Linked DNA regions of Homo sapiens: region 2 is linked to region 1. Evidence: fine-mapped expression QTL. A gene starts in region 1. The other region holds a variant in brackets. All regions are shown on one strand. Distances are between the middles of the regions.

Evidence for each region. PIP is the estimated chance that this variant, and not a neighbour inherited with it, causes the effect. A credible set is the group of variants that fine-mapping cannot tell apart.
Region 2: its variant is the best candidate, but not a certain one, in a credible set for the expression of WAKMAR2 in sun-exposed skin (GTEx, PIP 0.62).

The regions. Positions count from the first base shown.
Region 1 is chr6:137,865,086-137,870,462 of GRCh38, forward strand. WAKMAR2 (wound and keratinocyte migration associated lncRNA 2) reads right to left here and starts at 3,148. Exons shown (of 4, transcript NR_049793.1): 1 at 2,557-3,148; 2 at 1,498-1,799; 3 at 74-235. TNFAIP3 (TNF alpha induced protein 3) reads left to right here and starts at 2,174. Exons shown (of 9, transcript NM_001270508.2): 1 at 2,174-2,457. RefSeq lists an enhancer at 1,711-1,850 and silencers at 1,931-2,070, 2,311-2,480, 2,621-2,720.
Region 2 is chr6:137,823,022-137,828,398 of GRCh38, forward strand. WAKMAR2 (wound and keratinocyte migration associated lncRNA 2) reads right to left here. Exons shown (of 4, transcript NR_049793.1): 4 at 648-1,556. Among named protein-coding and RNA genes, the nearest start is that of TNFAIP3, 42 kb to the right of the region's middle. RefSeq lists enhancers at 4,981-5,110, 5,131-5,180. The variant C/T (reference allele first, on the strand shown) is at 2,890.

The DNA.
Region 1 (5,377 bases):
AGTAGAATCATGGAAAGTGGAGTTCGAACATAATCCAGGGCTATAGACCACTCCTGCATCTGACTGCTATTACCTTGTCACAAATCCTGGCAGGCAAGATGACAAAGCAGTTACATCAGGACAGTTGGCAGTGGCAGGTATGAACGTGGCCCCTCAGGCTTGTCACTCCTCTTTACTGCACTCCCAGTTCATGACACCAGACAGCAAGACATGAGCCAGATAGGGGCAGTGGAAGCTGCAGGAGGATTGAAGTCATGGAGCCAGAGATGAGAGGAAACAGGCCAACTCTGTTTACAAAGGAGCACCAGCAGGAGAGTGGTGTGAGGATTAACATTCCATGCAGGGTCTTTCAGATACATGATCTTCTTCTGCCAGCTCAACTGAAACCCAGGAGGTTTCCTGAAGGTGAAACCAAGACCCTTCTACCTCTGAAGCCGCATTCTGTCTAAGGTCCGTGTTTGGCTGTTTTGAGAGGCTGGGAGACAGGACACCAAAAGAGTACCTGTCTCACAGGATCTTTCCTGAGAGGAATGGTCTAGTAAGACTGGTCATTATGGGCTTTGGAGTAACACAGGCTTAATGCCACTGGCGACTCTGCCCCTTTTGGTTGTGGAAACTGGGCAAATGCCTCAAGCTTCTTAACCTTCATATAAAAAGCATATATAAGCATATAGCAAGTACTTGATAAATGTCATTTTAGACCCTGTCATTTCTGCTAGCCCTGGACTCCAGCAAGGTCCATTTACAATGGATAGCTGACTATCCATTGTTTGAATGTTGATAGCACATTTGTGAACAAGAAGAGAGGACAAATAACAAGAGGTTTGGAACTGGAAGAAATTCCAGCCATCGGTTTTAAAAGACGAGGACCAGTCTTCAGAGAGGCCACTAGTGACACTCTGCTCCAAACTTCTTTTTGCCAAAAAAGTGCCACCCTCCATCCAGCCCCCACCCCCATCTCTGCAAGTCCTTACTGGCGAGAGGAGGATACTTTTCTAATTAAAAACCTGTGATATATGGCCTGACAAGTATTCTTAAATGTAATTAAGGGGACCATAGTACAGAATATTTCCATCCGGTTCTAGTTTAGCCAATCTAGTAAATGATCCAAAGGGTCCCGTGCTTAGAGGGCAGTAAGACAGTAAAAACGCCCTAAGACTCCTCCCTGCACAGCACCTGCACCCCCACTGCCCAGGGGGCTGCATCCATCTCCACATGACTCACCCTCCCTGTGCAACGCATGGGGGTAGGGAGGGAAGCGCCAGTATTATCAGCCATCAGCACCCTGGGGTGAACTGATTATCAGGACAACTAAAAACACACCTAATAAAGCCTTGGAGACACATGGCAAGCACCGTGATGGACTAGAAGCGATTTCTAAGCTGAAATGCTGCTTTGAATGCAATGTCAGCTGGATGCTTGGTGAGCAGAAATAGACAAGGGGAAATGGAGCAAGCGCGGCATAGGGGTGAGTGTTGTTCTGATTCCTAAGTTTACCTAAGACTGGGGCCACGGGGTCGGGTGTCCCCTGGGACCTACGTCTCATGCAGCCTGGGGTCCAGAGCTGGCAGGAACAATGGAGATGGGGACCAAAGGCTGTCACCGCTGCTTTTTCTCGAAATGCCCGCCCGGGTCCTGTCTGGGGCTCCCGCCTACGCGCTCATCACGTGCACAGCCCAAACTTTTCAGAGCCGGCCCGAGGCCTGCGGGCCCGGGCGCCAGGGTGGTTTTTAGGGTTTTCTTTCTTTCTTATTTCCCTTCTTCTTCTCCACAGTTGATGATTTTCTGCAGAAAAACAACTGCGAAAAAGAACCTATTTCATTTCCAGTTCCCATCACCGCGATTTCCACATGGATGTGACGTGACCCCAGCTTCCGAAATGCCCAGGTGACTCACGCGGGGACACCCCGGGGCGGGGCGAGGGAGTTTCTCCGGGCGCCTGCAGGGACCGGGCGGGGCGGGGCAGCGGGGCGGGGCAGGGAAAGGGGGCGGGGCGGGGCCCGCAGGCCCGGTCGGGCGGAGGCCGCGCGCGCCCCTCGCCCCCTGCGCCCTCTGGCGGCCGGCTGGACGCACTTCGCAGCCCGACCCAGAGAGTCACGTGACTTTGGAAAGTCCCGTGGAAATCCCCGGGCCTACAACCCGCATACAACTGAAACGGGGCAAAGCAGACTGCGCAGTCTGCAGTCTTCGTGGCGGGCCAAGCGAGCTTGGAGCCCGCGGGGGCGGAGCGGTGAGAGCGGCCGCCAAGAGAGATCACACCCCCAGCCGACCCTGCCAGCGAGCGAGCCCGACCCCAGGCGTCCATGGAGCGTCGCCTCCGCCCGGTCCCTGCCCCGACCCCCGCCTGCGGCGCGCTCCTGCCTTGACCAGGACTTGGGACTTTGCGAAAGGATCGCGGGGCCCGGAGAGGTAACCGCCGCGCCTCCCGGAGAGGTAACCGCCGCGCCTCCCGGAGAGGTAACCGCCGCGCCTCCCCGTGCCGTCTGCCTCGGGCTCACCGCAGTCAAGGGCTGCGGGTGCATGTTGGGCAGCGACCCCCGGGCTGGCACCGTCTACCTGGCGTTGGTTTTGCAGCGCTCCTGGACTGGGAGTTTGTTGGACGTTTCTGTCTGGGTTTTGAAGTGCTGGGAGTTGAGGTCACTGCTGCAGAGGTTGGAGTGACAGCCCTGGATACCTCCAGCCAGCTGTTCCTTTCAGATAATGCACGGAACTTAAGCTGCAGCTGACTGGTGAAGAGGCGCCCCTCGGGCCCTCCGATCGGGTGGTCGTTGGCGCTTTGCTCCTTTCGTGTCTTTTTTGGAGCCAAGCGTTGCATGCTCATGGCCACGTAGACCTTGCAGAAGCGCTGCGGCTTTTTCCCAAATTGTGCAGGACCAGCCCGACGGGGCGTAGGGTACCGCAGTGGCCGCCAGCCCGGCGGAGGTGGGGGGCTTCAGTCCCAGAGACAGCTTCCCAGACGCTCACGGGTCCTTGCAGGGGGCTGGGGTCCTGGCGCGGGGTTCAGCTTTTCCAGTAGCAGCAGTGTAAGAGAAGTATGCATGTAGACGTGGGTCGCTGGCCCCTGCTCCAGCCCCTACCCCACGGTTAGACTGTCTTTGTCAGCTGGAGTCGTCCCACATCCTGCCACCTGGCCTCTCAGAAAAGCAGTGGCATTAAGTAAGGAAGGAGCTTAACTCTTTTTGAGCCCGCTTTGTTTTCGGTTCTCCTCGCCTCAGATCTTCTTGCCTTGGAAAGCCAGTCTGGTCAAGTGTCTCAGGGTAGCATTTTGGCAGAACCATTGTTAATTAAAGGGACTTCTGGACCGCAACCTTAATGTACCAGATTATTGAGCAGCCAATGAATGCTTCATTCTCATTGTTTAAGGTGCTGCTTTGATTTTTTTTTCAATTCTTTGTACTATTTTTGATTTTTTGGAGAGGCACATCCCCAAATTTGGATGAGGTATTTGTTGATAAATAATTCATCAATTTCCACAATGCAGACAAAAATGTCTGCCCAGAGTGGAAAAATAAAACAAGGGGGAGAAGAGTTTGAGTAACGGAGAAGTTCTGTGGAATCCTAGTGACAAAAGTTGAGAAACTACCTTTAAATAAGACAGTGAGGTAACAAATGTTAAAAAAAAAAAAGTTAAGGGTAATATTGCATTGTTTGCCACTTATAACGTATCTGAAACATTTGTTCTTTAATCTTAAGCGTAGAGTGGTCCAAGACCTGGAAATCTGGGCAGTGGGTTTTGATTTCTAAGGAGGCAGTTTTACAGGCTGTGCAAGGCTAACCCTACCAATGAGATCACACTGGCGTATCCGATATTGACATTTGCATGTCTTGCCTATGGTTTACAGCTCTCACTATTTTAGATCTTTGGTGAAAAATCTTTAGATTCAGAAGAGAAAAATAAAAGAGTCAGGCAAGCAAAAAGAGATAACACCTCATTTGTTTAAAATCTTCCTACTGCCCATCTCTTTCCATCTGATTGTGGCAGGCACTGTAGCCACAGGTTTGGTGTTGTGGGATTGCAAGGGGCAGGTATTGAAAGACCTGGCTCCTAGGCAAAACTTTGCCCCTGAATGGCTGTGGGATCTGAGCAGTACCTGTAACTCCATTGCCTTAGCTGCAGACTAAGGTGGTAGTGTAATTTCAGGGAAGGGAATAAGGTCATCTTTGACTTTTAGTCCCATCATCAAGCATGGTGATTGGCCTTCAGTAGGTGGTCAGGTAGTGCTTGTTGGGTGGATGGGTGGATGGATGGATAGATGGATGGATGGATGGATGGATGGATGGATGGATGGATGGACGGACGGACGGACGGACGGATAGATGATATTGTGAAAGAGACTTTTGCTGTGCCACAAAGGAAAGGTATATGTGTTATTTTTATCCTGCTATGATTTTGCCCAATTCCACCTGTAGAGGACGTCTGACATCAAAAGAGAGCACCATCTGATCCAGAGAATGACTCCCACTATGCCTTTCCCAGCAATCAGATTAAGAATCCCAATCTAAAACTATCACCAGAAAACTCCTCAGGAGAAACCATGGGTCATCTAGTCCAACCTCTCTCCTTTGAGTGGGCCACAAGAATTATCTCAACACCTTATCAATGGTGTTGAGAGTCTAGACCCACACAGAAGTAGCTACCCTAAAATCTAGGTTTCTTCTCCTCCCTCTTCCATAGGTTTAACATTTTTATTAACTGGAAAGTTGCCCTGGCAAATAAGATGTTGCAGGAATGGAATTAACAATCACTGTGAAATTTCCTAGGGAATGTCTTTGTGCTCTGAAAACTTCTTCATCTTCTTGGAAATTAGGAAGTGTGGCCAGACACCCTACTAAGGGCTAGTAAATCACAGCTGGCTTTTTACAGTGTTCCACACTGGAGAGATCCTACATCATGTTAATTTGCATCATCCTGCGCTGTTGGCATGGGTTGTAGATGCTGGTCTTTGCCACCTTTCCTCCTTCATTTGCCAGAGTGGCCTCCTGGTGGAAACTTCTTTCCTTGTCTACTTCTAGATTTTCATTCCTTCTACTAGTTGATTATGCTTAAAGATTTCAGGGTGAAAAGCCAGGCAGACTTGCCTCTGTGTTGGTACCTGGAGGGTGATGATAAAATTTCATTGGCAGTTGAGTTAAAATGATTGAGCTCCAATATCTGTTCTTAGAAGTATAGAATTTATTGTTCTATTATTATTTTGCGGTTTTTCATTTTTTGTTTTCGTAGAGACCTAGGTCTCACCGTGTTGCCCAGGCTAGTCTCAAACTCCTGAGCTTAAGTGATCCTCCTCCCTCGACCTCCCAAAGTGCCAGGATTAAAGGCATGAGCCACCATGCCTAGCCTATTGTTAGTCTGTTTCTTATTCTGATATGAAGTCCGGTG
Region 2 (5,377 bases), 42 kb before region 1:
AAAGAAGATAGTATGTGTTACAAATAAGATAAATATTACATAACCATTTGTAAGATTATTTATGAAGAGTTTGTAATGATGTGGGAAAGAGGTTATGATATAAAGTTAAGCAAAAGAAAAAGTAAATGCCAATTATAAAAATAGTATATTGTTAGCTTTGCTTAAACATATATACGCACACACTATCCGCAAAAAGCAGGAATATACTTCACTCTGTAAGTGGTGGTTATCTCTGAGTGACATTTTACAGGATGTTCCCCTGCTTTTTTTTTACTGTAATGTACATTCCAAATTATTAGATTAGTATATTTACTTTTACAAATGGTGATTATACATTTTAATAGTTTCAGAATGTTAAGATCTTAAGAGACTAAGCTTAGTTCTATAGCTAGCACATAGTAGCATTGCATAAATATTATTCAATCAATTAATGAAGTCATCACTTCATCGCAAGAGTGTACACAAAGTATTAGAACTATTAAAATGTTTGTGTGTGCACCAGCCCCATCAATTCTGAACAACGCCCTATGCCCTATCTGTCATAATTATATATTCTTATTTTTGGGGTCCTCACTCCTTAAAGCAACATTGTTGTTTCCTTCATTGCTTCTCCCCAAGCACAGAAGCAAAAAAAAAAAAAGAGATCATTTATTGTTTTAAAACCTTCATTTATTTTGGGATGTCACTACCAATTTTTCAGGCCTTAGACATGTAAGCATGCATTTCTACTTTTTTAGATTTTGAATCATGTAGAAATCTAGCCAAATTAATTGAGAATACTCTATTGAATAAATCAACAACTTTACTTCCAGGGTCCTGTTAACCTAAGCTAAAGATAAAAAAGCAGCAACAAAGTGCCACTGTTATCTGGTTAAAACTGACAACTGTAAGATGTATGGATGATTTTCTACAAGTTTAGAAACAGGAAACAGTGCTTGCTGCACTTGCCACAGGGCATATAAACTGAGAAAGTTATGTAGAAATTCAAGATCAGAGGATGAGCGCAAGGATGATCTTTGAGAACAAAACAGTGAACAGAGCCCTTTGTGGTGGCAAGCAGTGACGTGAGGTTGTGTTTATGTGAATACAAACCCTCTCCTCCCAAGTCTGGTGACTACAGTGTTTTCTTCCCACCTCGTTGTTAATTGTGGAAATCTGGCTGTCACTATTAACATATCAAACAGAGGTCTTGATATTATCTGCAGCTGATCATTTGTTTAGGTTTTACCCGCAGGAAAAGTCTGGTGGCAGCCAGTCCCAGGACAGCCACGCATGACGCACAGAAGAGTCCTTATAGTTCCCCTGGAGGGGGTGATGATGCAGGCAAATGCCACGCCTGATCCCTTTGGGTCTCCGTGGCAACAAGGCTGCTTGTCAGACTAGATGATAATGAGCCATGATCTGGAAGAGGCTTATTCCATAACAGGAGGGAGGTTTCAAAGGTAACACGTCAACAGCAATGCCTCGGCAACAGCTGTTTGTTATTGTAGTCGTCAAGGACAGAAAAAGGACAAGGCTGCCAGAAGATGTTGCATATGGAACAGAAGATTCTTGCCCTGGAAGAAGGAATAGAGGAGATGTAAATATCCCTTCTTTCTTGGGGGAAGGAAATAGATGAACTGTATGCTAAGTTAGAGCCTCTCTTTATCTATAAATGATCTGTTGGTTAAACAGGATACCTCCCTTCTGAACATCTCAGCACCCCATCAAGAGAACTTCAGGTCTCTGCCATTTAGACGTGTCATTTGTAAGTAAAATAAATCAGGGAAGTAATAGGAGGAAAGCTAAGAATGAAAGGAATTCATCACCACTGCAAATTTGTCCCTGAAGCAAGGTGAGTCCCTGCCCATCTGGCTACACCAGCTCTTTTTTTTTTTTTTTTTTTTTTTTTTTTTTGGCCCTTACTAGACCCCACTTGGGATTTTGTTGGCATATTTGCTTGGATGTCTATCTCCTCTGTAGTTCCTGAGGTCAAGATTACAGTCTCTTTTTTTTTTTTTTTAGTTTTTGTATCTATGGTGCCTGGCAAAGAAAAGAAGCTCCATCAATATTTACCAGTTGCTGGTGGCAATGGTAATGGTAGTTGTGTAGAAGGTGGGAAGGATAGAAGTATAGCTAAGTGACGGGACATTCTATTTCTACACCTTGTTTAGCTATGGAGGTCTCTGGAACTAGCCAGGCTAGCCAAGACTGGGACTTCTTGTGTCTTCTCCAAGAGAGGCAGAATGAGCCTAATGGTTTAGAACGTGGGCTCTGGAGCCAGACAAGCCAGATTAGAATCCTGACTCTACTCCAAGCAGTGTGAGCTTTGGCAAGTTACATACCCCATCTGTGCCTCTGTGAGGATGAAACGAGTTCCTTAGAATGATGCCTGGTACCCCAGAGGAGCTATTCAGGTTCAATTGACTCTGTTTCTAGTATTACTGCTCAACTTAGGAAGAAAAGAAGTGCAGAAGAGGAGAGGCTTTTGCTTCAAATTTTGAGTTTCACATTTAACCTTGCAGTTTTATCCCTGGGGAGCTTCTGCCTGGATGGAGGATGAATCTGGTATCTAAGCTCCTCCTTAGGGCTGTCATTTAGACCAGTGCCAATCCCTAGGAGTGCTTCTGATTTCCTGCTTATCTCCTACAAATGTACAGTTAAGTCAATTCAAAAGAAAAGATAAATGGTCCAAACAAATCCATTGTAGCATACTGTAATTCACTGTCCATGGGGCAATTCATTTGCCCTTGAATTATTATTATCTTCCTTACCTGATGTGCTTGACACTTATGATCTTGAACCATGCTGGGCACCATGGCAAATTTTGATATTTGATATCAAATATCAAAATATTTGATATTTTTTCCTTGATGCTTTTGAAGACACCTCCTCCATAACCACGATCAG[C/T]GACCAACACTCAAAAGGCTGAGGGGAACTGAAGCCAAGTTAGGGAAACAATGTAAATGCCTGGCTGGTTAACACGTGGATATCCAAAGAGTTGTTGGGTCTTCTCACCTCTACCCTCATCTGCCGTGAGCACACAGTGCTCCACGGATATATTCAAACTTGAATCAGGCCAGGCACGGTGGCTCATGCCTGTAATCCCAGCACTTTGGGAGCCCAAGGCGGGCGGATCACAAGGACAGGAGATTGAGACCATCCTGGCTAACATGGTGAAACCCGGTCTCTACTAAAAATACAAAAAATTAGCCCCGCATGGTGGCAGGTGCCTGTAGTCCCAGCTACTCGGGAGGCTGAGGCAGGAGAATGGCGTGAACCCGGGAGGCGGAGCTTGCAGTGAGCCGAGATTGTGCCACTGCACCCCAGCCTGGGCGACAGAGCAAGACTTCGTCTCAAAAACAAAACAAAACAAAACAAAACAAAACAAAAAAACCTGAATCAATAAGTGAGGAATTTTATGAAATGCACTCTTGAAGCCAATGAAATAAGGTCATCCATAACTATAAACCAGCAGCTAAATATTACGTAAGCATGGGACTTGGACTCTATTTCATTTAGACCACCTGAAGCAGGTTCTCTTGGAACTGCAAAACAAAAGAAGAGAGAGAAAGAAAGACCACCATTGTGATGGTTTCCAGATAGGCCTAATCAAAAGGTTGAAAATTTCTACCAAGAATATTAAGTCATTACAGCAGGTACCTTTTCTAATTAAAATTGTATTCCCACTGCATGGCTGCATCCTAATAAACTGAGAGGCATCAGCTAGCTACCTTATCTTTCATACCAGCTGTAAGTATGCTGATATACATATGTATATTATATTTGTATTATGTATAATATCTATATGCTATATGTATATATAAAGTATAGCCCTTAAAAATTATTTCAAAGTCACACAATCATCTGAGTCACACAAGCACATAGAAAAAGAGATAAAGGTATGTTATGTAACTCACCTCCTGTATCCAGATAAGTCTTCAGTCAAACAAATACAATTATTTGATATTTTTTCCTTGATGCTTTTGAAGACACCTCCTCCATAACCACAATCAGGAACGGTCTGTATTTCAGCAGTCAGGAAGTTCTTTTTTTTTTTTTTTTTTTTTTTTTTTTTTCAAATAAACTGCTTATCTTAGAATGGTTTTAAAATTACAGAATTAATGTAATTAGTGCAGTAATGTAATTAGTGCAGTAATGGTACAGAGCGCTCCCTACCTAATACTGAGTTTCCCCTATTGTTAACATATTACATTAATATGGTACCTTTGTCATGACCAATGAATCAGTATTGATACATTATTTCCTCAGCTTTTCCCTAATGTCTTTTTTCCTTTTTCTTTTTTGAGATGGAGTCTCACTCTGTTGCCCAGGCTGGAGTGCAGTGGCACGATCTCGGCTCACTGCAGCCTCCACCTCCTGGGTTTAAGTGATTCTTCTGCCTCAGCCTCCCAAGTAGCTGGGATCACAGGCGCCCGCCAATACACCCAGCTAATTTTCGTATTTTTAGCAGAGATGGGGTTTCACCATCTTGGCCAGGCTGGTTTCAAACTCCTTACCTCAAGTGATCTGCTTGCCTCAGCCTCCTAAAGTGCTGGGATTACAGGTGTGAGTCACCGTGCCCTGCCCCTAATGTGCTTTTTCTATTCCAGGATTCCATGCAGGATACCACATTGTATTTAGTAGTCATGTCTCCTTAGGCTCCTCTTAGCTGTGGCAGTTTCTTAGACTTTCCTTGGCTTTGCTGACCTTGATAGTTTTGAGGATTACTGGTCAGGTATGTTGTAGAATGTCCTTCCATTGGGTTTTGTCTGATGTTTTACTCATGATTAGACTGAGTTAATGCATTTAATGGGAGGGAGACCACAGAGGCAAAGTGCCATTCTCATTATATCATATCATCAAGGGTGCACACTATCAATCGCTTGCCAATGTTAGGGAGTTGTTTTTAAGGTCAAAAGTAAATTCCTATTGTTAAAGCAGTGGTTCTCAAAGTGTGGTCCCCCAGATCAGCAGTGTCAGCATCACCTGGAACTTGTTAAAAATGCAAATTCTTGGCTTTATCACAGGCCTACTAAATCAGAAACTCTGGGGGTGGAGCCCAGTGATCTGTCTGAACAAGCCTAGGTGATTCTGATGCAGCTGAAGTTTAAGAACTGCCGTGTTCGTGGTTGTCTAACATGTTTGGCCTCAATGTATAAAAAGAGTTCTCCTCAGTGCCCATCTATTAAGCCAGTGGTTCTCAACTCTGCTGCATTTCATGAATACCCACGCCCAGGCACCATCCCCAGAGACTGATATCACTGCTTTGGGAGGGTGTCTTACTGAAAAGTTCCCAGGTGGTTCCAAGCCTAGACAGGGTTAAGGGCTCCTGCCCTGGCCCTCAGCTAAGAGAAGTCTCCCCTCTTCTACTCATGCTTTCCACCCTTGTAAGCTC